4 linked regions of the Homo sapiens genome follow. The protein of the gene in region 1 purifies or fractionates together with the protein of each later gene. This does not show direct contact. Each region holds a gene or a part of one and is shown on either strand. Other genes may lie near its edges. The genes, in order: TMEM9, ACAD9, OPA3 and NDC1.

The links.
Region 2: the proteins of TMEM9 (region 1) and ACAD9 purify together in Homo sapiens (co-immunoprecipitation; 2 studies listed by BioGRID and IntAct, with this or other methods). This does not show direct contact.
Region 3: the proteins of TMEM9 (region 1) and OPA3 purify together in Homo sapiens (co-immunoprecipitation; 2 studies listed by BioGRID and IntAct, with this or other methods). This does not show direct contact.
Region 4: the proteins of TMEM9 (region 1) and NDC1 purify together in Homo sapiens (co-immunoprecipitation; 2 studies listed by BioGRID and IntAct, with this or other methods). This does not show direct contact.

What each region holds. Positions count from the first base shown.
Region 1 is NC_000001.11:201,144,459-201,151,483, forward strand, and holds part of TMEM9 (proton-transporting V-type ATPase complex assembly regulator TMEM9 isoform a precursor), read right to left. Parts: intron 2,391-7,025; coding exon 2,282-2,390; intron 878-2,281; exon of another isoform or gene 651-877; intron 1-650. UniProt on the Homo sapiens protein: Transmembrane protein that binds to and facilitates the assembly of lysosomal proton-transporting V-type ATPase (v-ATPase), resulting in enhanced lysosomal acidification and trafficking.
Region 2 is NC_000003.12:128,882,620-128,889,644, reverse strand, and holds part of ACAD9 (complex I assembly factor ACAD9, mitochondrial), read right to left. Parts: intron 4,993-7,025; coding exon 4,899-4,992; intron 1-4,898. UniProt on the Homo sapiens protein: As part of the MCIA complex, primarily participates in the assembly of the mitochondrial complex I and therefore plays a role in oxidative phosphorylation.
Region 3 is NC_000019.10:45,574,793-45,581,817, forward strand, and holds part of OPA3 (optic atrophy 3 protein), read right to left. Parts: intron 1-7,025. UniProt on the Homo sapiens protein: May play some role in mitochondrial processes.
Region 4 is NC_000001.11:53,835,272-53,842,592, forward strand, and holds the start of NDC1 (nucleoporin NDC1), read right to left. Parts: upstream 3,026-7,321; 5' UTR 2,991-3,025; coding exon 2,934-2,990; intron 2,865-2,933; exon of another isoform or gene 2,690-2,864; coding exon of another isoform or gene 2,636-2,689; intron 350-2,635; coding exon 229-349; intron 1-228. UniProt on the Homo sapiens protein: Component of the nuclear pore complex (NPC), which plays a key role in de novo assembly and insertion of NPC in the nuclear envelope.

The sequences.
Region 1 (7,025 bases):
CAGAGTGGCTAGGGCTGGTAAGAAGGTGTGTGCTGGGGGTGAAGGTCACGCCTGCCCTCCCATCAGCCCCTCTGCAGGGAGGGGAAAGCCAAGGGTAGAACAACAACTCCACGAATCTCTTACATACACAGTGCTTCACAAGCTGGAGTCATTTTGTTTTTACAGAAAAGACAGATTTAATGAGGCAAATTCAATGTTTCTCAATGTGGGTGCTCTGGGATTTTGGGTGGGACATTTAGCATCCATGGTCCCTGTAACAGTGTTGGTAATACACCTGTTATTGGGACCACAAAAGCACCTTCACCCACCTCTAAATGCCCCCTGGGGGGGCTGTAATCATCTGATTGAGAACTGCTGGGCTAGATCACCTGTGATCCCAAGGCTACCAGATGGTGGAGGTGTGACTCAAACCCAGACTTGCTGACTCCCTCTCAAATGCTTTTCCTAATTCCACAATGCCTGGCCATTGCCGGCTTCTGATCTCAGCCCTGCCCTACCTAGACTGTGAAGAAGAGTGAAAAAAAGAACCTCAGGACTTTCAAGCTGGGTGCCCCGCTCAGCCAATAGCCAAGTTCCACTGGACCAATGTCCCACCTGATTGGGGCACCGCGTTCACGCCTGTTTAAACAGGGCAAATAATCAGACCTCACCTGTACCCCAGGAAGGCGGAAGGAGAACAGAGGCTGGGTCTTCAATAGGCTGAAGTTGAGGGGAGCCTCCTAGGTAGGAGGACTGGGGGAAACACGAGGGATTAGGAAGTTGTATCTGATGAGGTCCCCATGCCAGGAAGTTCCCTCCCGGCCAAACAGGGAGCAGCGGTGACATCTGGCTCTGAATTTCAGGTCTCAGGCATCTGGTCCCTGGAGGGTGAGGCCCACTGGAGCAAGTTCAGAGAAGGAGAATGACAGTTGCAGGAGGGGCTGCCTCAGGTGGATGAAAGGAGTTGGGTCTGCACAGGGCACTGGCTGGGAGTGAAGGACAGACAGCTGCTTTTTCCCTGAGTGGTGAGAACACAGAGGAGCTACAGCACAGGGCTCCCTGGAATAGGCAGGAAGGACAGCAGTGAAGACCACCGCCCCCTAAATGTGCCTCGAAAGGAGAAACCTGATGGAGGACCCAGCAGTGCCTTTAAATATGAGAATTATTTTCCAATGCTATTTATAGACTCTTCAAAGGACAAGCAGAAAAATGCTACAAACTGGAACAGAAAGGGCTACATTAGGCCAGGCATGGAGCTCACACCTATAATCCCAGCACTTCGGGAAGCCAAGGCTGGAGCAGTGCTTGAGGCCAGGAGTTCGAGACAAGCCTGGGCAAGACAGTGAGACCCTGTCTCTACCAAAAATTTAAAAAATTAGCTGGGTGTGGTGATGTGCACCTGTGGTCCTAGCTAATCAGGAGGCTGAGGTGGGAGGGTTGCATGGGCCTGGGAGGTCAGAGCTGCAGTGAGCTGTGATCGTGCCACTGGACTACAGCATAGGCAACAGAGTCAGACCCAGTCTCTAAAAAACAAACAAAAAAAGAAATGGCTATGTAATCAGTGAGTACTGTGTGTGCCAGGTGCCTGGCCCAGGATTGTTAGAACCTGGACTAGGAAGCCGCACTGGGGGGCTGGGGGTCATGACGGTCTCTGCTAGGGCGGCTTCACAGCCTCTAGAAGACACGGGAAGTTCTGCCTGGTGCAGGAATGAACAGACACCTCGTGACGTCTATGGTGGTGACTGTGTCTATCATCTCTTTCCTGAATTCACCCAAATGATCAATGAGAAGGTGGTTCAGGAAAACACAAAAGAACCAATCTGATGTTCTCCCAGCACCCAACACCCAGCCCTAGTCCACAGCTCTGATGCTTTTTAGAGGAGCTTAGTCACTTTGGAAGCTTAATTAGACTAAGCTCCAGGAGGGCAGCCCAACCTCCCCATTGGCAGCATCTTGCCCAGAATATAGCAGGCACCGAAAAGAGATTTACTGGATGAATAGAAGAAGGGAGAGGAACGAAATAAACTGTAAAGAATGCAGGGAAAAAGGAGTCTCCAGCAGCTCTCCCAGGGCTCTCCCCTCTCACTGTAATGGTAACTACTGGAAAGAGAGCAGAGAAGGGAGCTGGCTCCAGGAAGGTGTGGGATGTGGGTCCCAGTGTCTGCACTAGGCCAGCCTAGAAGCCAGTCTCATAGCCATTGGGACATTCCAGAATAAAGTGAAAAACTGTGGGTGTAGGCCAGTCTGCGATTGGAGAATGGCGTGTGGGAATCCCACTGGCTTCCTGAGACCCTGGCGTTACCTTGATGGTGGTGGTGCTGCGCTCCTCGTACCTGCACTCGCACAGCAGGCAGTAGGCCTCCACGTCATGGCCAGGCACTGGCATGGGCTCCACCACGTGCAGGCAGTTGCTACAACAGAGAGAGACAGGGCTGTCGAGGCAGGGCCACCACGTCTTAGAGCCTCAAGACCAGAGAAGCAGGTAGCCAGGGGAGCTGAGAGGTAGGGGCTAGGCAAAGGTGAAGGGTGCTCCCAGAGAGGGCCAAGGGCTTATAAAGGATTAGGCTGGCAGAAACCCTTCCTAACCCACAGCCTCACAGCCCATGCCCCTTACACATCAAAACCAGCTCTCCAAACTGCCTACAGGGCTGGCTCCAAAACCATCAACGTTCCCAGGGTTCTACCCCCAGCCGCCTTCCTCATCTCATGCTATGTTCTCCCGGCATGTGCTCATCTGTCCCAAAGGTTCAACTCAGAAGCTGACGGATCTTAGATCAGAATCTCCAGCCAGGGCCGCTCTCCTCTATGAGCTACAGGAGTCACTATGTGCATGTCCCATAGAGACCATGAACTCTACACCCGCCCCTGCACACCCTTTGCCCTCAACTCCCTACTCCTGCAAACTGGCTCCCCATTTGCAATGGCAGAGAGAACACTTCTACCGTCCACTTCACTGTCCGGGTCAAACCCTGGAAATCATCTTTGACACTGCCTTCCTCTCATCTAAGTAAAATCACCAAAGGCCAGTGATTTTACTTCCCTAAAAATTCCTAGAATCCATCTCCTTTATTCTCTCCCACTGCTGTGTCTTAGCTGAGGCCCTCATCCTATCTTCCTCGGACAACCGCACCAGCCTCCGCGCTGCCCTCCTGCCTCGAGTTTGGCCTTTCTAACACATACTACCTTCCCACGGCAGCCAAGTGGTTTTCCAGAATGCAACTCTGGTCATGTCATTCCCCAGCTTAGGCCCGGTCAGTGCCTCCACAGAGCCCCTAGGGCCAATGCTAACTCAATTGCTCTGCCAGGGGTCCCAACCCACCTCACTCCAGTTCCATCTCTTGCTACGCCTCCCTCACCCACTTTCCCAACCTCCAGCCACACGGATCTGCCAGGCTGCTCTCTGAAGGAGCCACACCCACACTCTCACCAGGAGGGCATGGCTTTGCCACCTCATCTTTTAACTCTCAGCTTAGCCACCTGTGCCCAATAGCCAGCTCCCCCCAACCCCCCGCCAATGCACTGCATTGTAATCCAATCTTTATTCGTGCTGTCTCCCCAGGAGATGTACGTTCCTTGAACACAGGGTTATGTCTTATACATCTCCATATTCCCAGTACCTAGCTGGGTGCTGGCCAGAGCAGGCTTAGTAACTACATGATTCCCAAAGGAAGAGTAGACCCACTTTCATCTAACAGCACTCTTGCGTAAGGTGGGATAAAGATCATAGGTTCCACATCTAAAAACAGGGAAAGAGGCTTAGGAGGCAAAGTGGCATCTCCATAGTGGTAGTGAGGCCAGAACCCAAATCTAGACCCTCAGCCACAGGTCTTTACTTCTGACTCAGCCTCAGTGGGGCCTGGGCTGGTACCTGGCTTGTCTCAGGCCTCTCATTCCCAGCCTTCCTCAGATCAGCATGGTTCCAACCTGTTTGGTTCAGGGACCACACTGACAAAGCAAAAAACTCTACAGAATGCACCTTCATTACTACCAATGGAAAAATCCAAACCCCTTGGAGGTGTGCAGAGGTGAAGCAGGTGTCATGCTGCAATGCACCTGGGCTCTGTCCTGGCTCTGCCACCAAGTGTCTATACCCTGGGCCCGTTCTCTTCTCTTTGAGATAAAGCGGTTGCACCGGATAATCTTTAAAAGGCCCTTCCAGCTCTGACAGGAGTCCTGCAAGAGTCAAGCATAGCTCCCTTCTGAGCTACAGGGCTGGGTTTCTGGCAGAAGCATCAAGGGTGTGTGATATAAAGACCATGTGTTGGATTAAGAATGGGATGTGCTCTAAAGGACTCTGTTCTCCCAAAAAGCCATATGTGGCATACATGAGTTTATCTAAACCTTTCATGATCCAGTTCCACCTCTGTGTCCAACATGTTATTCCCTGCTCTGAGCAGGTCTCCCCTGTTGTAACCGGAAGTACTGCTTTCAGGCCTTGCATGCTGCTTCCGCTGGGAGCAGCGGAAAAAGGGTCACCCAGGGCACTTGGCTGCCATTCCTGTCCAGAGGCAATGCCATCTTCCCTTCTCCAGGAAGTCTCTACAAGCCTCCAGATTCCTCCCTTACCTGAGCTACACTGGGTCCTGGGTCTAGAAGGTCATACCAGTATTGCAGTGGAATCTATGGATTTCTCACAAGGCCAAGGTGTCAGGGGCAGTTTGGAAGGGCGACCTGAGTTCTTCAATGTGGGATCTTGCTACCCAGGGGAACAGCAATAAGGAGCTGAAATAGTTCTGCTGTCTCCAACTCTCCTGTGATTGGGGGCAATTTATTTAACTTCTCCAGGCCTCGGTTCCCTCATTTATAAATGGAGACTGAACTTGGTCAGTGTCTTTCAAACTGTACTCTTTTGGGACCCACAGGAACCACTGTACGGTGGGGTGGTAGTCAGGGAGGGGCTGAGGGACAGTTCCCTCTCAGGCAGAGCAATTCCGACTTTTATGTTTTATAGATTTTGTTTCCAAAACGGATTTTGTTTGCAGAGAAGTTCTATTTTAACAAGTTTGAAAGGCAAGGAACTAGCCAACTTATTCAGTGCTTTCCTGCTCTGGGAGTGTCTCTAATAACACATCTCCTTGCCGGACCCACCAATGGGGCAAAGCTGGGGTTTTTGCCTTTTTATGCACATATGGTCATAATCTCTCAACACTAGGTGGCAGGATACCTGTAAACACAGGAACATACATGGCTTGGCCATTAAACCTGAGGACCGCATGTCAGATGATTCTGGCTTTACTCTGCACAACCAAGGAGAAGGGTGCAAGTGTTCTTTAGCATGGACCAACGTGACAGCAAAGTGAAAATGTGGCAGAGACCAGAAGACCCACTCAAACTGGCCTCCTCTAACCCTAGCACTGAGGTACTCAGATCAATGTCAAGGCCCCACCCTACCCTTAAGAGGCTCCAGGCAAGCACAGGATGACTCCCAGTCAAGGTCAGTGTCACTGGGTCCTAGAATCCTGGAGTCTTTCCTCCAGCCTCAGTTTACACCCACCACCCTTAATGGAGCTGCCCTGAGGTTCCTGATGTAAGGCTATTCATCAAGCAGCCCCTTAATTCTGACTTCTGAGGGGAAGAAGGAGATAAACTACAGCCTGAGAGGTCTAGACAGGACTCCGTCCTCTGCAGGCATCCAACCTTGGGTTTTCAGGCCATCTATAGCTCCAGGACAGAGAGAGTGTTCCTAAATTTGCAAGTGTCTGCCTGCATAAGGAGTTTGGGATATAGCCTTGTTATCTGGTGAAGGGCTAAGACAGCCCATCTAAGTTTTTACTGATGCTATTTGAACTATAACCACAAGATACAAGGGGGTTACTTGGAATTCTCCTAAGTAGAAGGCTAGTGCTTCAGGAGGAGCCCATTTTCTCAGTCTGTGGTGTAAGTTTGACCATGACTATCTATGTGGCCACCAGTAAGGCATGATAATATACATTAATATCAGCTAACATTTATATAAGCATTTACTGTGTGCCAGGTATTGTTCTAAGTGCTATAGTTACTGACCTGTGCACATACACGCACAACACACACACAAACACGTACATACTTAACACAGAAAATACTGCCACTATTTATAGATAAGGAAATCAAAGTGCAGTGGAGATTAAGTAATTTGTCACACAATTAACAAGCAGCTAAGCTAAATTTGAAGTCAGGAAGGTGGAACACAGAGTCTGTCTATCTAACTAGACTGCCTCTCAGAAAATCACCGACAGTCTCAGAGTTGGAAATTCAACTAGTTTCAAAATTCTCGAGTGTTGCTCTGGATCAACTGCATCCTAAGCACCAAAGGAAAGAAAGGTTACTGCCTCCCCTCACCCTCACTCCGTATTTGAAGAATCAAAATCGAGCAGTGGTGGTGGTACTGGAAATGTGTATTTTCTCAAAGCTCATCTGCTTTGAGAAAGCAGGAGAGGCAGCACTGACCCGGACCTCTCATCTGATGTTGATCTCTTCTACAGTGACCTCAGCCCATCTGTGCTCGGGGCCCTCCAAGAACGGAGCTTCCTGGCTCCCAAAACTGCCTAGATTAGAAATGCTCCCTCAACTCATGCTTAAGTCGGTTTCCCTGAAGCTTTTATCCTTGGCCCCAACTCTACACCAAGAAACCCCACTGAACATAACTGATCCACACCAGTACCTGCTCCCACATGTCCCACCTCCCATAACATGCCAGCTTTCAATCAATCATCGTGTGTCCCCAAGTCCTCTCCTCTTTAGGCTTTCCTTGCTTCCTTAAACCATTCCTTCCAGGACAATGTGCTAAAACTTCCCTTCACCGCACTAGTCTCCTTTCTCTGAATGAATTCTGGGTTATTCTTCTCTTTTTAAAAGTGAGGTACCCAGAAATGAATTCAACACTCTAAATTATTTCTTTGGGCCTCTGTCTCTGCTATTATAAAATGGGAGCAAAATCCATCCCACCTACTTTACAAGGATGCTATAAGACTGGCACAGAATAACACATGTAACACAGCTTTGCAAAAGCATTAGGTATCCTACAGCATGTGGTCAGAATACCTACCTTTGCCAACTTCTCTACTACT
Region 2 (7,025 bases), on another chromosome or scaffold:
TATGCAGAAAGAAGCCAGACAAAATCACACATAATATAATTCCAAAAAATACGAACTAATCTATAGTGAGAGAAAACAGATCAGCAGTTGCCTGGAAACAGGGGGGAAATAAAAGAGGCACAAGGAAACTTTGACGGGTAATGAGTACGTTCACTTCCTCTGTTGCACTGATGGCTCCTGAGGGGTACTCTCTAAATACAGTCATGCGTCAGGTGATTCTCTCCCTGTATGAACATCAGAATGGACTTACACAACCTAGGTGGCAGAGCCTACTACACACCTAGGCTATATGGTATGGCTTATTGCTCCTAGGCTGCAAACCTGTACAGTAGGCCGGGCGTGGTGTCTCATGCCTATAATCCCAGCACTTTGGAAGGCTGAGGCGGGAGGATCACTTGAGCCCAGGAGTTGGAAACCAGCCTGGGCAACACAGTGAAACCCCATCTCACTGTTAAATATTTTTTGTTTTTTTTTTTTTAAGGAAAACAAAACAAAACAAAAAAGCTGTACAGCATATTACTGTGCTGAACACTGTAGGCAACTGTAACACAATGGTAAGTATTTGTGTATATGAACACAGCTAAACATAGAAAAGATACAGTAGAAATATGGTATGATGATCTTATGGGATCACCACTGTATATATGGTCTGTCATTGACTTGAATGTCATTATGTGTCACATGACAGTGTGTGCAATTTATTGTAAATCAATTATTCCTTAATTAAACCTGAAAAAAAAAAAAACCTGACAAACCACATAGGAAAAGTTTAAATAAAAGAACAAGAGACTATGGGAGCTAAAAAAAGATACAAATAGGAAGATAAACACTAGGAAAAAAAGCAGAAATAAGTATTTCTAAATTATAAATTATGTTTATATATAAATAAGCAACTTTTAAAACTAGCAACATATAATTTGTGATCACCAGGTGTGAAATAAGAAACAAACAAAAACCAAGCAATGTAATGACAGCTGACAATTTGGCACTTCTCAAAGAGGTTCTGGGGGACCTGAGCTGCTTCTAGGGGGTCCCACAGGATCAAAACTAGTTTTTATTTTTTTTTGAGATGGAGTCTCACTCTGTCACCCAGGCTGAAGTGCAGTGGCGCCATCCCAGCTCAATACAACCTCCACCTCCCGGGTTCCAGTGATTCTCCTGCCTCGGCCTCCCCAGTAGCTGGGATTACAGGTGGGCACCAACACACCTGGTTAATTTTTATATTTTTAGTAGAGACAGGGTTTCACTATGTTGGCCAGGCTGGTCTCAAACTCCTGACCTCAAGTGATCCACCCACGTCGGCCTCCCAAAGCGCTGGGATTGCAGGCATGAGCCACCATACCTGGCCTAAAACTACTTAAGATGTTACTTGCTTTTAAATTCTAATTCTCTGAAGACTGTACAGTGGGGCGCAGTGTAGTGTATTTAACGTTTTGGCTCAGAGTCCAATATATAGTCCAAAGTACCATGTTCCCAGAATTTATGTACGGCCTTTATATGAATAAATCTTGATCAAGGATTCAGAAAAAAGTCTTAGGTTTGCATATAAGTCACTCAAAGCAGTAAAACAGGCTACTTGGATTTCCAGCAATATTTGTGCTTTTATTCTTGGCCATTACTTTTGGGGAAGGGTTGTCTGTCCTGGTTGGTTTTCATAGAGGCCAGTTGTGGGAGGATGTGATTTTTCTGTGTCTCCAGATGACAGTGCCTCTATTTCCGTGGCACTGCTGGCTGCCTACAGCTGTCATTCCAGAGGGCCCTTTGTCCACAGTGATTAGCCTCCTCTTTGAATGTACATGAAATAGGTGTATTTTTGTATGTTCTTTTCTCTGCTTTGCCCTTGGATTTAACTTCCTTTTTGAATTCACATCATGGCAGCTGAATGAACATAGTTTTTATTCCAGCATTTGCTATTTATTCCAAGAGACCTTTGTTCCTGTGAGAGGGAGTGGGTTTGGTTTGCAGTGGTTTCTTGCATATATATATATATATATATATATTTATTTATTTTTTTATTTTTATTTTTATTTTTTTTTGAGACAGGGTCTCACTCCTGTCGCCCAGGCTGGAGCTCAATGGCATGAACACAGCTGACTACAGCCTTGACTTCCCAGGCTTGGGTACCTTCTCCCACCTCAGACTCCCAAGTAGCTGGGACTATGGGCGCGCACCACCATGCCCGGCTAATATTTTAAATTTTTAGTAGAGACAGGGTTTCGCTCCATTGCCTAGGCTGGTCTCAAACTCTGGGACTCAAGCAATCTGCCCCCCTCAGTCTTCCACAGTGCTAAGATTACCAGTGTGAGCCACCGTGCCCAGCCGGTTTCTTATATATTTACATCTCTGCAAATACAAAGATGACAGTTATTGCTGACAGAGCCCTATGTCCTGGAAGTGTGTGTTTCTTGCTTTAAATGCACGTGTCAGGACAGGTGCGGTGGCTGACACCTGTAATCCCAGCACTTTGGATTACAGGCAGATCATTTGAGGTCAGGAGTTCAAGACCAGCCTGGCCAACATGGTGAAACCCCATCTCTACTGAAAATACAAAAATTAGCCAGGCGTGGCGGTGCGTGCTATAATTCCAGCTACTCAGGAAGCTGAGGCATGAGAATCACTTCAACTGCAGAGGTTGCAGTGAGCTGAGGTCGTACCACTGCACTCCAGCCTGGGTGACAAAGCAAGAGCAAGACTGTCTCAGAAACAAACAAACAAAAAGCATGTCTGAAGATTATAAAAAAAGACAGTTAAAAAAAAAAAAAGACTGCACAGTGGACTTTTCCAGAGGTTACGTGCACAAACAGGTATGAGAATCCAGCTGTCTTCTAATAAGCCAAACATTAAAAGGACTTGCATAACTTTCAACCAATGTCACTCTTTCCATCAATTTTTTTCTTTTTTTTTTTTTAACTTACTTTTCTTTTTTTTTTCTTTTTGAGACAGAGTTTCACTCTTATTGCCCATGCTGGAGTGCAGTGGCGCGATCTCGGCTCACCGCAACCTCCGCCTCCCAGGTTCCAGCGATTCTCCTGCCTCAGCCTCCTGAGTAGCTGGGATTACAGGCATGTACCACCACGCCCAGCTAATTTTGTATTTTTAGTAGAGATGAGGTTTCTCCATGTTGGTCAGGCTGGTATCGAACTCCCGACCTCAGGTGATCCACCCACCTCAGTCTCCGTAAGTGCTGGGATTACAGGTGTGAGCCACCGCGCCTGGCCTGATTATTTTTCAAAATATTTTTCATTAGCTGGCGCGGTGGCTCACGCCTGTAATCCCAGCACTTGGGGAGGCTGAGGAAGGCAGATCATGAGGTCAGGAGTTCAAGACCAACCTGGCCAACATAGTGAAACCCCATCTCTACTAAAAATACAAAAATTACCCGGGCGTGGTGGTGCATGCCTGCAGTCCCAGATACTTGGGAGGCTGAGGCAGGAGAATCACTTGAACCTGGGAGGTAGAGGTTGCAGTGAGTCGAGATTGCACCACTGCACTCCAGCCTGGGTGACAGAGTGAGACTCTGTCTCGGAAAAACAAAAACAAAATATTTTTCATTAAAAATATTATGTTAACATGTAATGGATTTATTATTTTTAAACAAATGAACACAGTATATTTTATTTTTTTTTTTTAGACAAAGTCACACTCTGTCACCCAGGCTGGAGTGCAGTGGTGCAATGTTGGCTCACTACAATCTCTGCCTCCTGGGTTCAAGCAATTCGCCTGCTTCAGCCTCCTGAATAGCCGGGATTACAGGCACCCGCCACCATGCCCGGCCAATTTTTGTATTTTTAGTAGAGACAGGGTTTCACCATGTTGGCTACGCTGGTCTTGAACTCCAGACCTCAGGTGATCTGTCCCCGTTGGCCTCCCAAAGTGCTGGGATTACAGGCGTGAGCCACTGCACCCAGCCCCACAGTATATTTTAAATTTCTCAGTTTTAATTTCTAAGAGGGGCTAGGCATGGTGGCTCACACCTGTAATCCCAGCCCTTTGGGAGGCCAAGGTGGGAGGATCACTTGAGCCTAGGAGTAGAGACCAGCCTGGGCAATATAGTGAGAACCTGTCTCTATGAAAAATACAAAAAAATTAGCTGGGCATGGGGGTGCGCACCTGTAGTTCCAGCAACTCAGGAGGCTGAAGTTGGGGGACTGTTTGAGCCTGAAAGATGGAGGTGGTGGTGAGATGAGATGGTACCACCACACTCCAGTCTGAGCAACAGAGCTAGGCCCTTTCTCAAAAAAATAAAGTAAAATAAAAATAAAATAACCCCTAAGATGGCAAATATTGATAGATAAAATTCATATAAACAAAAGCTCTCCAGGATCCTACTATTAGGGAAGACCTGCTGTCCATCCACCATCACTGAACTCTCCACCAAGGCCCTGGCTGGAGGACCGGCCAACAGCTCTGAGAGAGGGACCTGAGGTCAAATGCTGCCTCACCATGCAGGTGCCAAACTGTGGCTGGTCCACAAATCACTCTTTGTTTACAATTACCAAAGTACAGAAATTGAAACTCAACCTTTAGAAACACTAAGAGCAACTGTACACTGCCACAACAACCAACACATGCTCCATGGGCTTGTATGGTGTGTGGCCTTGGCTTTTTGCCATCTAATTTTTTTAGTTATTCATTTTTATTATAGCTTTATGGAAGTGTTGACCTGGAACAGTATGGAAATGTTTAAAGTGCTCCTGAACCACAAATACAATGAGAAGCATTTAACTGGATGTTTTTTAATTAAATGGCAATAGGGATGAAACCTAAAGCAAAATATTATGAGTGGAAACCATTTCTCCCTCAAGAAGACTTCTCCTATGTATGTCACTTCTAATATAAATATCAACCAAATAGCCCTTACAATGGAAATCGGCAATGGTAAAGAAAACCATACATACCCTCTTCAGTGAAGAATTTTTCCACGGGTCCCAAGAACTGATTGATTTCATTAAGTTCATCTTGGCTAACTTCTGGAAATGGGAAAACTTCTTTCTAAAAATAGTAAATATTTTCTAAAAAATTTAATTTTTAGCACACTCCCATCACGGAAATATCAGTTAAAAGGGAAGGAAAAACATGTGCTCCACTCCACCCTGGCCAGCGGGACATGACGTACTGAAGGAACTGGAAAGCAAACCTCACAAGGTTCCTGAGATACAGAAACTATGTGCAGGCTCCACCACCCACATCCATCTCCCTCCCCTGTTCAAATAGGTTCTTCCCGATTTTCATCAGTTTTCCTTCTCAGTACAAGGGATGATAATAGTCCCATGAAACAAGGAGCCCAAGACTAACATTTAGAAGCCTGGGGGTCTGGTCCTTGATTTCAGGCTTACTCATTATGTGGCCTTCACCAAATCCCTTCAGCTCTCTAAACTACCCCTTTCTCACCCATAACATGCAGGTAATATTTACTCAAGGCCCTTGTGAGAATCGTGGAAGATAGTGGATGTGGAAACTCCTTACTGAAATGGACAATTCTACATCAATTATTGTGTGAGCTCAAAGATGCTATGCTGACAAGAGCACATCATGCTTACCAAGTCTCATCGATCCCTACAGCCGCTGTCTCTCCTGCTCACAGACATCTGCTCCCTGTGCTGAGCCCCTCTGGACTTTTGGGCTCTGCTACCCCTTCAATTGCCAGCATGACATGAGCTTTGGATGTGGGCTTCAGGCTGTTGAGCAGTGATGTCCTGAGTCAGAGCTATAAGCCCAAGCATCACCTGTCCTCATGGCGCCTCTCACCAAGTGTTCTAGAGAAGTCTTGGGGAGACCTCAACCTTCTCCTCAGACCTTGTACAGCTAATCAGCCAACAGATTTCTCTACTCTATCAATATGCTCGCACTGCTTTCTCCTCTCTGGGCCCAGGACCACAGGCTTATAGGTGAGTCCCTAACTAAAAGTGACAGCCAACTTAAAGGAATCCCTGCCTCCATCCATTCCAAAACCACCCTGAAGGTGGTATAGAAAAAAAAAAAGGTTGGAGGCCAGGCACGGTGGCTCACGCCTGTAATCCCAGCACTTTGGGAGGCCGAGGCGGGCGGATCACGAGGTCAGGAGTTTGAGACCAGCCTGACCAACATGGTGAAACCCCGTTTCTACTAAAAATACAAAAATTACACGGGCTTGGTAGCACGCGCCTGTAATCCCAGCTACTCAGGAGGCTGAGGCAGGAGAATTGCTTGAACCCGGGAGGTGGAGGTTGCAGTGAGCCGAGATTGCGCCATTGCACTCCAGCCTAGGTGACAGAGTGAGACTCCATAAAAAAAAAAGAAAAGAAAAAGAAAAAAACAAGCTTAGCTGGTTGCAGTGGCTACTGCCTGTAATCCTAGTCCTTTGGGAAGCTGACGCAGGGGGATTGCTTAAAGCCCAGGAGTTCAAAACCAGCCTGGGCGTGGTTGCACACGCCTGTAGTTCCAGCTACTCAGGAGGCTGAGGTGGGAGGATCCCCTGAGCCTGGGGAGGTTGAGGCTGCAGTGAGCTGTGATTGCACCACTGCACTCCAGGGTGGGCAACAGAGTAAGACACTGTCTCAAGGAAAAAAAAAACAAGAAAAAAAAAAAAAAACAAGCTGATGGCTCCATCACTCTGCAGCCTTTTATATCAAAGCTCAGTCTCCTTCACTGAACACAGAGGCTCACTGACACTTGGGTCTTGTGCAATGGGCTGTGTTAGAGATCATTCTGGTACCAGTGGGCAGGCCAGATAAGACTGCCTGGCAACTAATTGGCCTTCAGGTACAACCACAGAAAACCTGCCACACAGGAGAGATTGCAGGGGCGTGGGAGAAAGATCCTGATGTTATCAAATCAGGTCAATGCCTTAGGGGAGGAGAGTTCAATTGCAATAAACAGTTTGTAAATTATCTAAAAAAGTGGAACCTGTTATTCAAAGAAATCTAGTGCAGAAACCAAATATGTAAAACAGACAGAAGCAGGCGGCTCTGACTGAGACTGCTGATAGGGAAAACAGGCACCCAAATCCCACCCACTCAACTTCCCACCCATCCCTGCAGCAGTTC
Region 3 (7,025 bases), on another chromosome or scaffold:
CCTTGCCCTTAAATAACCTGCAGCTTCTGCTTCTTCCCTCATGAAAATCTGGCTGTTGGGGAGTCCTGAGCAGCCATGTGAGATATTCAGCTACCCTGCAGGAAAGACCACGTGGAGAAGAGAGGCCCAGAGGCTACGCTGAGAGGGAACCAACTCCCCAGTCCCAGTGCCAGTTCCAGATGACTCCAGCCCAGCCACCTCCACCTGCACCTGGATGAGAGCCTGCCAAGCAGCAACCAGCAAAAGAACTGTCCGGCTGAGCCCAGGCAAGCCACAAAGGTAACAGAAACTAAGAGTGACTGGGTTTTTTGTTTGTTTGCCTTTTTGAGACAGGGTCTTGCTCTGTTGCCCAGGCTGGAGTGCTGTGGCACGATCTCGGTTCACTGCAGCCTCCACCTCTCTCAGGTTCAAGCGATTCTCCTGCCTCAGCCTCCTGAGAAGCTGGGACCACAGGTACCCGCTAAATTTTTGTATTTTTAGTAAAGAAAGGGTTTTGCCATGTTGCCCAGGCTAGTCGCGAACTCCTGGCCTGAAGTGATCCACCCACCTCAACCTCCCAAAGTGCTGAGATTACAGGCATGAGCCACTGCACCTGGCTAAGAGTTACTACGGTAAGCCACCAAGCTTTGGATCAGATGGCTATGTAGAAAAAGAAAACTGAAACCAAGTCCATGGCCTAAATTCATAAGAATGGCCACAGAGCTGAGCACTTCTGAAAAAATGACCTCAGCAACCTGAATGAATGATCATGGTGTATCTGTTTCCCACGGCCACTATAACAAACTACCACAAATGCAGTGGCTTAAAACAGCACAAATTATTATTATTATTTGAGACAGGGTCTTGCTCTGTCACCCAGGCTGGAGTGCAGGGGTGCGGTCACAGCTCACTGCAGCCTCATTCTCCTGGGCTCAAGCAATCCTGCCGCAGCCTCCTGAGTGGCTAAAACTATAGGCATGCATCACCATGCCCCACTAATTGTTTTTTATTTTTAGTAGGGACAAGGTCTCGCTTTGTTGCCCAGGCTGGTCTTGAACCCCTGGGTTCAAGTGATCCTCCTGCCTCGACCTTCTAAAGTGCTGGGATAACAGGCATGAACCACCGCACCTGCCCTAAATTTATTATTTTACAGTTCCAGAAGTCAGAAGTCTGAAATGGGGGCCAGTTGTGGTGGCTCACGCCTGTAATCCCAGCACTCTGGGAGGCCAAGGCGGGTGGATCACCTGAGGTCAGGAGTTGAAGACCAGCTGGCCAACATGGTGAAACCCCCGTCTCTACTGATAATACAAAAATTAGGGCATGCGCCTGTAATCCCAGCTATTCAGGAGGCCAAGGCAGGAGAATCGCTTGAAACCGGGATGCAGAGGTTGCAGGGAGCTGAGATCATGCCACTGTAATCCAGCCTGGGCGACCATGTGAGACCCCCTCTCAAAAAACAAAACAAAACAAAACAAAAAACTGGGCGCAGTGGCTCACGCCTGTAATCCCAGCACTTTGGGAGGCCAAGGCAGGTGGATCACCTGAGGTCAGGAGTTCAAGACCAGCCTAGCCAACATGGTGAAACCCTATCTCTACTAAAAATACAAAAAATTAGCCAGGTGTGGTGGTGGGTGCCAGGTGTGGTGGTGGGTGCTACTCAGGGGACTGAGGCAGGAGAATCGCTTGAACCCAGGAGGCAGAGATTGCAGTGAGTTGAGATCGTGCCACTGCACTGCAATCTGGGCAACAAGAATGAAACTCCATCCCCCCCCCCCCAAAAAAAAAAGTCCAAAATGGCTTTCACTAGGCTAATCTCAAGGTGTCCGCAGGGCTGTGTTCCTTTCTGAAGTCTCCAGTGGAGAATCCATCTCCTCGGCTTTTCCAGCTTCCAGAGGCTGCCCGCATTCCTTGGCTCATGCCTCCCTTCCTCCATCTTCAAGGCCAGCGGGGCAGCATCCCTCAAATCATTCCCTCTCTTGCCTCCCTCTTTCCCTTATAAGGACCCCTGTGATCACACTGACCTGACCTGCATAATTCAGGATCATCTCCCCATCCCCAAATCCTTCATTTGATCACATTTGCAAAGTCACCTTTGCTGTGCATGGTAACATATTCAACAGGTTCTTGGGATAAGGATGTGGACATCTTTGGGGGACCAGTCACTCTACTGCCTACTGTGTGTGATAAACCAGAAAAAGGACCAGTGCGCGCCAAAGGAATAAACACAGATGAGCTGGAATTTTCCTACTGCCCAGAGATATCTCACAGCCTCCCTGGGAGCACCAAAAGTGCACTTTGCAGGCATGGCCTCAACCTGCCTAACATCACCAACCTCCTTTACTTTTGGGTTAAAATAATTTAAACAAAGGAATTCTGTGTTTAAAAAGATCTTTGCCTCCCCAACAGGGTGCATCATCGATGATTTATGCTTCTAGCATGTACTGTTCTTTCCTCAGGCAGCCACAGCTACTGCTCCAGCCTCTCCTGTGAGACAGCTGGGCGCAGCCTGCTGAGTCAAAAGTATCTCAGCCAAAGGTACAGATACTGGATTTGCTGGTCAGCTCAGGACGCCTGACCTGAGAGAAAGCAGGGCCGCCAGTGCACCCTGGGAAATTCCAATCACCATGGCTGGGGGCCACAGCAAAGGGCAATCAGCAGTGTGAAGACACTAATGATGTAATTAAAAGGTGTAAATGTAAGAAGCCAGTACATTGCAATATCTGGTAGCATCTCCAACTCGACCTGTCCCTAACTGAGCTCCAGGTCTTTCTGTCCAACCTGCCCCTCCTCCAGTCGGCTGTCTCACACCCAATCCATGGGAAATCCTGCTGGCTCTACCTTGTAAACAAATCTACTGGTTATTCATTACTAAGAGGAAAAGGAAAGGTTCTTGACATGGTTACACCTTAACCAAGCGATCCAAATCACCATCACAAATGACAGAACAAATAGACCTCAGGAGTCCCCTGAAGGGATGTCCTTAGGAGGCACCTCGAGTCTGTGGTGTTCCCGCCAAACATGTTCAACATGAATCCAATCGGGGAAGCAATCAGGAGACTCCAGACATCGGGACACACTATCAATCAGAGGACTGGCTCCAATGTCAATGTCAAAAAACAAGGGCAGGGATACTATTCTAGAGCAGGGTCAGAAAACTCTTCCTGTAAAGGGGCAGAGAGTAAATATTTTAGATTTTGAGGCCAGGCGTGGTGGCTCACGCCTGTAATCCTGAAACTGCCTTTGCAAAATTATGACTGACACAGCAAAAGAGATCTAACTTGACTGACTCCATCTTACTTCCAACCTCCAAGCTGTCCTTGTTCATTCCTGAGTGAAGGCTGAACTAACTTTGGGAGAAACTTAGTTTATAGTTTAAACAAACATGGTAACAGCCCTTTCCCAAAGCAGACCTCCTTCTTGCCTGGTGACTAGATTGCCTTTGTAGGACTAACATTAGCCACAAGATTAGAAATTATGGTTTAGGAGTCATGCAGCTGGAGGATACAAGATTCTGACCCTCCCTAAACTGCTCCTAAGATCAGTGCTTGAGATATTCTGCAGACTCTGCACTTGATGGATCAGCTGGCCCCACCCAGATCAAAAAATTGGCTCATCTGATCTTGTGCCCGCCCTCCCCCTCCCCCACCGCCACCCAGGAACTAACTGAGCACAAGACATCTCTGAATTCCTATGATTTCATCTCTGACCAATCAGCACTCCTGGCTCACTGGCTTCCCCTCACCCACCAAGTTATCCTTAAAAACTCTGCTCCCGGGCCAGGCGTGGTGGCTCATGCCTGTAATCCCAGCACTTTGGGAGGCCAAGGCGGGCAGATCTCCTGACGTTGGGAGTTAGAGACCAGCCTGATCAACATGGAGAAACCCCATCTCTACTTAAAATACAAAATTAGCCGGGCGTGGTGGCGCATGCCTGTAATCCCAGCTACTCGGGAGGCTGAGGCAGGAGAATCACTTGAACCCGGGAGGCGGAAGTTGTGGTGAGCCAAGATCACACCATTGCACTCCAGCCTGGGTGTCGGAGTGCGACTCTGTCTCAAAAAATAAAATAAAATAAAATAAAACAGAACTCTGATATTGTCCTTCTGCTGCACAGAACCCTCCAGTAAGTCCTGTTCCACTCAGAGTAAAGCCAAGGCATTTGCAGTGACCCACAGGCCCCATACAAACTGTCCCCCTTTCCCGTCATCAGTTTCCTCTGTCCTGTGTGCCAGGCACGCTCATGCCTCAGGTCCTGTGTGCATGCGGGATCCTCTGGGCTGGAACGTTTCTTCCCCCAGATGGCAATGCTGCTCGTTCCCTCCCTCCTTGGCATATTTTCAGTGAGTTCTCCCTGACAATCCTATCTAGGCTTATAGCCTTCCTTTAAATACTCCTTGTTCTACAACCCTGATTTTTTTCCTAGAGCAATTATTGCTATCTAATATACTTCATCTTTTAACTATTTTTTGAGATGGAATCTCACTCTGTCACCCAGGCTGGAGTGCAGTGGTGCAATCTCGGCTCACTGCAACCTCTGCCTCTTGGGTTCAAGTGATTCTCCTGCCTAAGCCTCCTAAGTAACTGGGATTACAGGTGCCTGCCACCACACCTGGCTAATTTTTGTATTTTTAGTAGAGATGGGGTTTCACCATGTTGCCCAGGCTGGTCTCAAACTCCTGACCTCAAGTGATGCACCAGCCTCAGCCTCCCAAAGTGCTGGGATTACAGGCATGAGCCACTGGGCCCAGCCAACTATTTATTTCATTTATTGTCTGGCTTCCTCCACAAGAATGTAAGGTACCTGAGGGCAAGATGTTTTGCTTTTTCCTGCCTGTTGTATCTATAACATCTACGTGACAGCCATGACCCTATGCCAGGCACTGACTTAACATTTTATATCCATTTACTTAATCCTCACCACAACACAATAAATATTATTTACAGCATAATGCATACATAGTATATACACAAAATAATAATAATAATAATAATAGTATCTACCTCATCATAACTGGTGAGGACCCAGTGCCAGAGGCTGGAAGGTGCTGCAGACAAGCCGTGGCACAAAGTACAAGCCCAGTTAATGTGACCATTACATAATACCCAATGTACAGAATCGGAAATTGAAGCTAAGAGGGGCTAAATGACGTACCCAAAGTCACCAGTCTGGGTAGGGATTCAAACCTATGTCAGTCTGACTCCAGAAGCCATTTTCTTTCTTTTTTTTTTTCTTTTTTTTTTTTTGATATGGAGTCTCGCTCTGTCACCCAGGCTGGAGTGTAGTGGCACGATCTCGGCTCACTGCAACCTCCGCCTCCCATGTTCAAGTGATTCTTCTGCCTCAGCCTCCCGAGTAGCTGGGATTACAGGCGCGTGCCACCACGCCCAGCTAATTTTTGTATTTTTAGTAGAGAAGGGGTTTCACCATGTTGGTCAGGCAGGTCTTGAAATTTGACTTCGTGATCTGCCCACCTTGGCCTCCCAAAGTGTTGGGATTACAGGCGCGAGCCACTGCACCCGGCCTTTTTTTTTTTTTTTTTGAGACAGAGTTTCACTCTTGTTGCCCAGGCTGGAGTGCAATGGCGTGATCTCGGCTCACTGCAACCTCCACCTCCTGGGTTCAAGCGATTCTCCTGCCTCAGCCTCCCGAGTAGCTGGGATTACAGGCATGCGCCACCACGTCTGGCTAATTTTGTATTTTTAGTAGAGACGGGGTTTCTCCATGTTGGTGAGGCTGGTCTCTAATTCCCGACCTCAGGTGATCTGCCTGCCTCGGCCTCCCAAAGTGCTGGGATTATAGGTGGGAGGCACCGCGCCCAGCACAGAAGCCTATTTATTTATTTATTTATTTATTTATTTATTTATTGAGACAGAGTCTCGCTCTGTCGCCCAAGCTGGAGTGCAGTGGTGTGATCTTGGCTCACTGCAACCTCTGCCTCCCAGGTTCAAGCAATTCTCCTGCCTCAGCCTCCCAAGTAGCTGGGACTACAGGTGTGCGCCACCACACCTGCCTAATTTTGTATTTTGAGTAGAGACAGGGTTTCACCATGTTGGCCAGGCTGGTCTTGAACTCCTGACCTCATGATCCACCCACCTCCGCCTTCCAAAGTGCTGGGATTACAGGCATGAGCCACTGCGCCCAGCTCCAGAAGCCATTTTCTAAACCACAACGCTAAGAATGTCACAGTGTTTGGAAGACAGGCAGAGACAGGAAACAAACTGGGTCTAGGAATTCAGTGTCCAAAGTTTCGCCTCTGGCACAAATCTCTGCGTATGACCTGAGCAATTAACTGCTGCCCTCAACACCTCCATTTTCCCTTCTATAAACCAGAGGAAGTCATTCCTCTTTCCGGACATGGGGACAAAACAGTTGTGGGGGTCAAATGAGATGGCTAACAGGAAAGCACTTTGGTAACTGTGAAATCTAATACTTTCCCATTCTAAGAGCTGCAGCCCCAACAAAGACCCCACCAAACACCGAACAACCAAGAATTCCGGGCCCTGGAAAGCAAACTTTAAGCATCCAAACTTACAGAGGGGGAAAAAAAGTGCACTCCCTTAATCATGTGGGCTTTGTGTGTGCTCCTCCCTCTGCCCCAGTGCTTTCCTTACGCCTTGTCCTGGTGTTGTCCTCACCCTTCAGGTCCCAATTCAGATGTCTCCTCTGCCAGGAAGCCCTCCCTGAACCCCATGCCATGTCAGGTGCCCAGTGGGCTCCCCCATCTCAGCTCTGCCCACTGTTGGGGGATACGTCTGTCCCCCGCAGGACTAGGAATTCCTTGAGGGCACAGATTGGTGCTGGTTTGGTCCCTGCTGTTTCGCCAGCATTGCCAGCACAAGGCCTGGCACAGGGCAGAGGCTCACAAAATACCAGCTAAAGGAAATAATGAATGGATGGAGGGATGAATGGTGTGTAACCGCCCAAGGAGTTCACCTTGCCCGCTGCCTAGACAGAGCTGATTCATCAAGAGAGGAGAACTGCAAGACAAAGAGTAATTCACGCAGAGTTGGCTGTGCGGGAGGGTGTTTTGTTTGTTTGTTTGAGAT
Region 4 (7,321 bases), about 150 Mb from region 1:
CTTTTCGTTCCTATGATCACAGTCTTTGACAAGCTTATTAATCTTATTACATAATAAAAAGGTGATTTATGTTACGAAGGAGACATCTTAAAATTATCTCAAAGTGAATGTTTTGATGTGTCAATATAACATAGGCAGTAATTGAAAATAAACTGCTTGAAACATAATGCAATTTTTATGTTGAGAAGTAGGTCCTATAACTTTCTCCCCAAGTTGAGTATCACCTACCAGACAGCCACTGTATAGGATGAAACAAATCAATCCTGCTGAAAATTATAAATACTGTGGTGCAGATGGGTAGAAATAGCACTGACCAAACAATACTTGCAACTATCCTCCAGCCCAAAACCTATAAACAAAAAGAAAAACCCTCACTCATGAAGTCAGTTAAATTATTTCAGTTATGCAAATCCTATCTTTTCATACAGGATGTTAACCACTAACTCAGATCATAATCCGTAACTCAAACATTCACTACTAGTAATAACATTACGTACCACTAAAGAATTTATAGTATCAGTGAGCTGATGCCTGCATTAGTACAAAGTTAGGTGCAACATCAAATATCATACTTTGTATGAGGGGTGGTGGGCATTGATTTACAGCTGTTTTAGAGCAACTAATACTTGTCTCTCTAGGCTTAATTGATAGCTATATTAATATATAAAGGCTGTACACATTTTATGGGAACCACCTGTATACTGTAACTGTATTTATAATCATCAGATATGAACCTTTACTGGGCAACTACGGCACTGTAGCATTCTATTCATGTTTGAATTGCCCGTATCTATCATATAGGAGGAAAATATTTACTGCTGAATAATACAAGAAGATATAGAGGGGTTTTAAGCATGAAAGTGACAATCAAATTCATGTTGCTCAAGGTAAAACATGTCTGTTTACTGAAAGCTGGCTTTAAGGAAGATGGAGGAGTTGGGACACGAACCAAACCAGAGACAATGCAGTTAGGAGGCAGTCCACCAAAAAGCTGAGGCCGGGCGTGGTGGCTCACATCTGTATCCCAGCACTTTGGGAGGCCAGGGTGGGCGGATCACTTGAGGCCAGGAGTTTGAGACCAGCCTGGCCAACATGGTAAAACCCTGTCTCTATAAAAAATTTTTTAAAAATTAGCCAGGCATCATTCCAGCCCGGGCAACAGAGCAAGACTCTGTCTAACAAAAAAAAAAAAAAAAAAGAATAAAGTTGAACTCCTATCCCACATTCTTTTTGATGTTGTGATTTTGAGACAGCTCGCTCTGTCCCCCAGGCTAGATGCAACAGTGCCATCTCAGCTCACTGCAACCTCCTCCTCCCGGGTTCAAGTGATTCTCCTGCCTCAGCCACCTGAGTAGCTGGGGTTACAGGTGCCCGCCACCACACCTGACTAATTTTTTTTTCAGTAGAGATGGGGTCTCGAACTCCTGACCCCAAGTGATCCTCCCACCTCAGCCTCCCAAAGTGTTAAGATTACAGGCGTGAGCCACAGCGCCCAGCCTCCTATCCCACATTCTATACAAAAATTAACTCAAAATGGATTAAAGACCTACATGTAAGAGCTAAAACTATAAAACTCTTGGAAGAAAACATAGGAGTAAACCTTCATGATCTTGGATTTGGCAATGGTTTCTTAGATATGACACCAAAAGCATAAGCAACAAAAGAAAAATATAGATAAATTGGACATCAGCAATATTTAAAACTTTTTTGCTTCAGAAGACACTGTCAGCCAAGTGCGGTGGCTCACAAGTGCCAAAGGTGGCAACAACCCAAATACCCACATACTGATGAATGGATAAACAAAATATGTGGTATGTCCATACAGTGGATTATTCAGCCACAAAAAGGAATGAAGTACTCATGCATGCTAAACATACACCAGGCACGATGGCATGCACCTGATGTCCCAAATAGTTAGGCGGCTGAGGCAGGAGGACTAGTTGAGCCCAGGAGCTCAAGACCAGGCTGGAGAAGATATCGTATCTCTATTATAAAAATAATTTTTAAAAAAATTTTAGAGGCCAGGCACGGTGGCTCACGCCTGTAATCTCAGCACTTTGGGAGACCGAGGCGGATGACTCACTTGAGGTCAGGAGTTCAAGACCGGCCTGACCAACATGGTGAAACCCCATCTCTACTAAAAATACAAAAATTAGCTGGGCGTAGTGGTGCGTATCTATAATCCCCGCTCCTCGGGAAGCTGAGGCAGAACTCCTTGAACCCTGGAGGCGGGGGTTGCAGTGAGCCGACAACGCGCCATTGCACTGCAGCCTGGGCAACAGGGAGCGAGCCTCCGGCTCAAAAAAAAAAAAAGATAAGACTTACGGACCCAAAAGTTTTTAGTTTGGAATACAGGGGAGATGGCAGTGCACTGGGATAGAAGCACTTTTCCAAAAGGGATCTTTCTCCTCTTTCTCTTTGCACTCCAGAGAAGCGATGTAGTACTGTTAATTCCGTAACTTTAAGGAGGAAGTACTATTCCACTCAGCTCAGTCCCATTCTACCTTACAAAGAACACCTGCCCTGCTTACTGGACCCTAACCCCAGCCTCTACTAATGCCACATTTCTTTCCAATTCCGTGCATTCCTTCCCACTTCTTAACGAAACAAATTAAGTTATTTATTTTGCACCTACTGGATACGGTACCCTTGCGTAAAACTCCGCCTCACTCCCTATTCCAATTTCCATTCAGTCCATCCGTCCCACTCTGACCAGCTTCCTTCCACTCAGGACCCCTCTCCTACCCCGTAACCAACTTCCACTCAGGACTTCCCACAACCCTGCAATCAGTCCCCCAAGTGGTGCCTTCCCCACGCGTTCTCTCCACGCTGCCCCGGGACCGGCCCTCCCCCGCCCAGCGCGCACGCGCGATCAGAGCTTGCCCGCCCGGCCCGACCCTGGCAGTGCGTGCCACAGTGCACGCCGCACTCACGCGCCACAGTATGTCCCGCGACCTGCCGGCGCAGGGCCGGCTCACGGCCGTGGCCATGGAGATGGCGGCCCCTAGTCTAGGGCGTACAGGAGACCGTGCGCCCGCCCGCCACCGCAGTTCAAAGGCAGGAAGGCCCCAGGAGGACCCTGCTGGGTCTGCCTCAAACGCTGCCTGAGCGAAGCCCGGCCCAGGCTCCAACCCATCCCTGCGAGGCTTCGTCTGGACAAGCTCAACAGGCCAGGACTGCCGCGCAGACACGTCCCGCAAACGCGGCTGTAACTCCAGGAACCGCCCTCTGGCGACCAAACGGTCCCTTCGAAGCAGGGTCCAGCGGGGCGCCAGAAGCAGGTGGCGGCGCTGCATGCTGGGAACTGTAGTCTCGACGGCCCCCTGAGAGGAAGTAGGAGGAATGTTGCATTCTGGGACTCGGAGTTCCAAAGTACAGAATGCTGGGAGTCAAGGTCTTCCTGGAGGTGCCTTGAGGCATGCTGGGAATAGTAGTCTTTTATAAAGCCGATAACAGCCACAGTATTGATTGACTGGAATTCTTCAGTTAGAGCTAGCAAAATGATCTGCCCTCATTTCTCCCTATTACTTTATAAGTCACCTAAAAGTGAAACCAAAGGATGTGGTGGTCTTCTCCACAATAGGTACGCAGTAATTTTACTGAAATAAAAAAAAAATTCTCTAGAGATGCCTTTGGTTTCATAAAATCTGGTTTCTACTTCCAGATCTGCCACTTGCTAAATTGAATATTTTTATCTTCTCTGAGCCTCCATTTCTTCAACAGTAAGATAAGGATGAAAATAAAAATATCCTGGTGATGTTGTGAGGATGTAAATAATATGCTATACAAATGTTATCATTAATATACTGCCAGTAAGAAAAAAGGTGTTTCACCAACCCAAGTTTCACCTAATGAAGTCTTCTCAGTGCTTTAGACCTCAGTGAGATCTCTGGATGCATATCGCTAACGCCTTTTTATGCTCAATCACATGCCACAGTCAACATGCAATACTCAAGACAGAAATAGATTCAGTGATTTACTGACTAAGGAAATGCATAGGCTGGTGAGAGGAATTGAGATCACACCTACTGCTCTGCAACGTTTGCTAACAATGGCTTCCTGAATGCTTTAAGATTATATCCTATTCACTTCCAAAATCATGTTACTATCAATCATGTCTAAAGCACTGTAGGACAAACTGGGAATACAACTGATAGATCAAGTCTCTGCCGTGAAGAGATCTATCCGGTGGTGGAGAAAACTTGTAAAGAATTAGTCCAGGCCAGGCACAGTGGCTCACACCTGTAATCCCAGCACTTTGGGAGGCCAAGGCAGGAGGATCACAAGCCAGGAGTTTGAGACCAGCCTGGGCAACATAGTGAGACCTCATCTCCACAAAAACAACAACAACAACAACAACAAACTTTTTTTTAAATTAGCCGGGTGTAGTGGTGCACACCTGTAGTCCAAGCTACTCCATAGACTGAGGCAGGAGAATTGCTTGAACCTGGGAGGTTCAGGCTGAAGTGAGCAGTGATGGCGCCATCACACTCCAGACTGGGCCATAGAGTGAGACCCTGTCCAAAAAAAAAAAAAATCAGTCCAAATGCGTGTTCATAAAGACACCTCAGGTTCTAAGGTTCTTGTGGTAGAGACTACTCGTTGTCTGCCTCAATATCTATTCTCCCCTTCTTTCATAATAATTGAACTCCCAGTTTTTTAACTGGGCATATAGTTATATTTCCCAGCCTCTTTTGCAGCTAGGTATGGCCAGCTGACTGAGTTCAGGCCAATAAAATATAATCAAAGTATTGCATGGTAGCTTCCTAGAAACCCCCTTAAAAGGGAGCTACTGCATGATGGTCTTTGCCTCTTCTTAATCCCATCCTCCATTCAGCTGCCTGGATTTGGGATGTGTTGGCTGCAGCTCTAGCACCATACTGGACCACAGAAAGGGGGTCACACTGTAGGGAAAATGAAGTACTGAGCCTAAAGGAGACTTGATTATTTATGGCAACCATATCAGTTCTAGGCTACCTGCCTTTACCTCCTAATTTCATTTACACAAGAGAGACAATTATTTATTGTTTAAGCCACATCTATTTTTTTTTTTTTTTGAGACAGAGTCTCACTCCTTTGCCCAGGCTGGAGTGCAGTGGCATGATCTCAGCTCACTGCAACCTCCGCCTCTCGGGTTCAAGTGATTCTCCTGCCTCAGCCTCTTGAGTAGCTGGGATTACAGGCGCATACTACCATGCTGGCTAATTTTTGTATTTTTTAGTAGAGACGGGGTTTTGCCATGTTGGCCAGGCTGGTCTCAAACTCCTGACCTCAGGTGATCTGCCTGCCTCAGCCTCCCAAAGTGCTGGGATTACAGGCATCAGCCATCGCATCCAGCCTCTGCTTCTGTTTTTATAGCACCTATCACAGTCTTAAATCATCTTGTTTGTTTACTTCTTATTGTCTGACTTCTCACTAATATACAGACTTCACAAGAGCAGGGACTTTGTCTTGTTTATCATCGCTTCCAAAGTACCCATTACATTAGTAAGTAATAAATGAATTTTTATTTAATGAATAATGAATGAGTGGAAGAAATTAACTATATTGGACAGTGTTTCTTCAGGACAAAAACTTTTGATACCTATATCAAAGGGGGATTTAATGCAGGGAATTGATAACAAAGTTGTTGGAGAGGCTAAAAAAGCATAGGAAAGAAAGAACGGGGCTGTAGTAGCTAAGAGCAGAATGGAGTTACTGCCCAAATACCAGGAAGCTACTGCTTCCATTTAGAGCCATGAGACAACACTGAATGCTGAGCTGCTGAGGGTGGTGCCCCTGCTGCTGTTAGAACCACTCTGTTGATTTGAGCACCCTGTAGCTGCTGAAAGCACCACCCAGAAGTGCCTGCAACTATCCAAAGTTGCTCTCTGAGCCTTTGAAAGCCATAACCTGGCCGAGTGTGGTGGCTCACACCTGTAATCCGTTTGAATTACTTTGGGAGGCCAAGGTGGGCGGATCACAAGGTCAGGAGATTGAGAACATCCTGGCCAACATGGTGAAACCCCGTCTCTACTAAAAATACAAAAATTAGCTGGGCATGGTGGCACATGCCTGTAGTCCCAGCTACTCAGGAAGCTGAGGCAGGAGAATAGCTTGAACGAGGGAGGTGGAGGTTGCAGTGAGCTGAGATCGTGCCACTGCACTCTAGCCTGGAGACAGAGTGAGACTGCATCTCAAAAAAAAGAAAAGAAAAGAAAAAGAAAGCTATAAACTAATTATTTGAAATAGAATAAATTTTTTAAATGATACAAGACCTCTTTGGTCTCAGCCACAAAGGGAACACCATCGTTTGGAAAGCATTGCAGTAAGACACACATGTTGTGCTGCTGCTGTGCCCCTAAGGCCTATGCCCTTCAGTAGTCAACCTGTGGCACATGTGCCACCTTGCCAAGCACAAGAGGAAGTAACACTGGAGTACCAATGCTGAAAGATGAAATACCACCAGGACTAGTCAAATGAGGCACCTAAAAAGTGTATACCACAGATTCAGGCAGGGATTCCGTGAAGGAACAACACCTAGACCTAAGACGGCAGCTGTTGCAGCATCCAGTTCATCTTAAGAATTTCACTCCAGCCTGGGCAACAAGAGTAAAACTCTGTCTCAAAAAATAAATAAATAAATAAAAGGAAAAAAAAGAATTTTGATGGTTAGTCACCCAATAAATGTTCTGGTTGGCCGGGCGTGGTGGCTCATGCCTGTAATCCTAGCACTTTGGGAGGCTGAGGCAGGTGGATCATTTGAGGTCAGGAGTTCAAGAACAACCTCGCCAACATGGTGAAACCCCATCTCTACTAAAAATACAAAAATTAGCTGGGCATGGTGGTGGGAGCCTGTAATCCCAGTTACTTGGGAGGCTAAGGTAGCAGAATTACTTGAATCTGGGAGGCAGAGGTTGCAGTGAGCCAAGATTGCGCCACTGCACTCCAGCCTGGGTGACAGAGTGAGACTCTGTCTCAAAAAAAAAAAAAGTTCTGGTTTTTAAAAATTAAAAAAAAAAAAATGATACAAGACATGAAGAACAATACCAGTTAGTATTAGAAAAACTCAGAAATTATGTGATAGAACTCAGGAAAGAAATCAAAATTTAAACAATTATTATAAAATGGAAGTTGAATTAGAAGAGCAAAGAAACACAACAGTAATGTCATAACAAACGAAGAACTTTTATAATCAAAAAAGGAATAAAGAAACAAAAACAATTTTAAGTGACAAATAGAGAAAATAGGCAAAGAAGATCTAACATATGAATAATGGGAGTCCCTGAAGACTCTGGAATCTCATTTTAAACCATCACTGTCTCGCCCAACAACACACAAG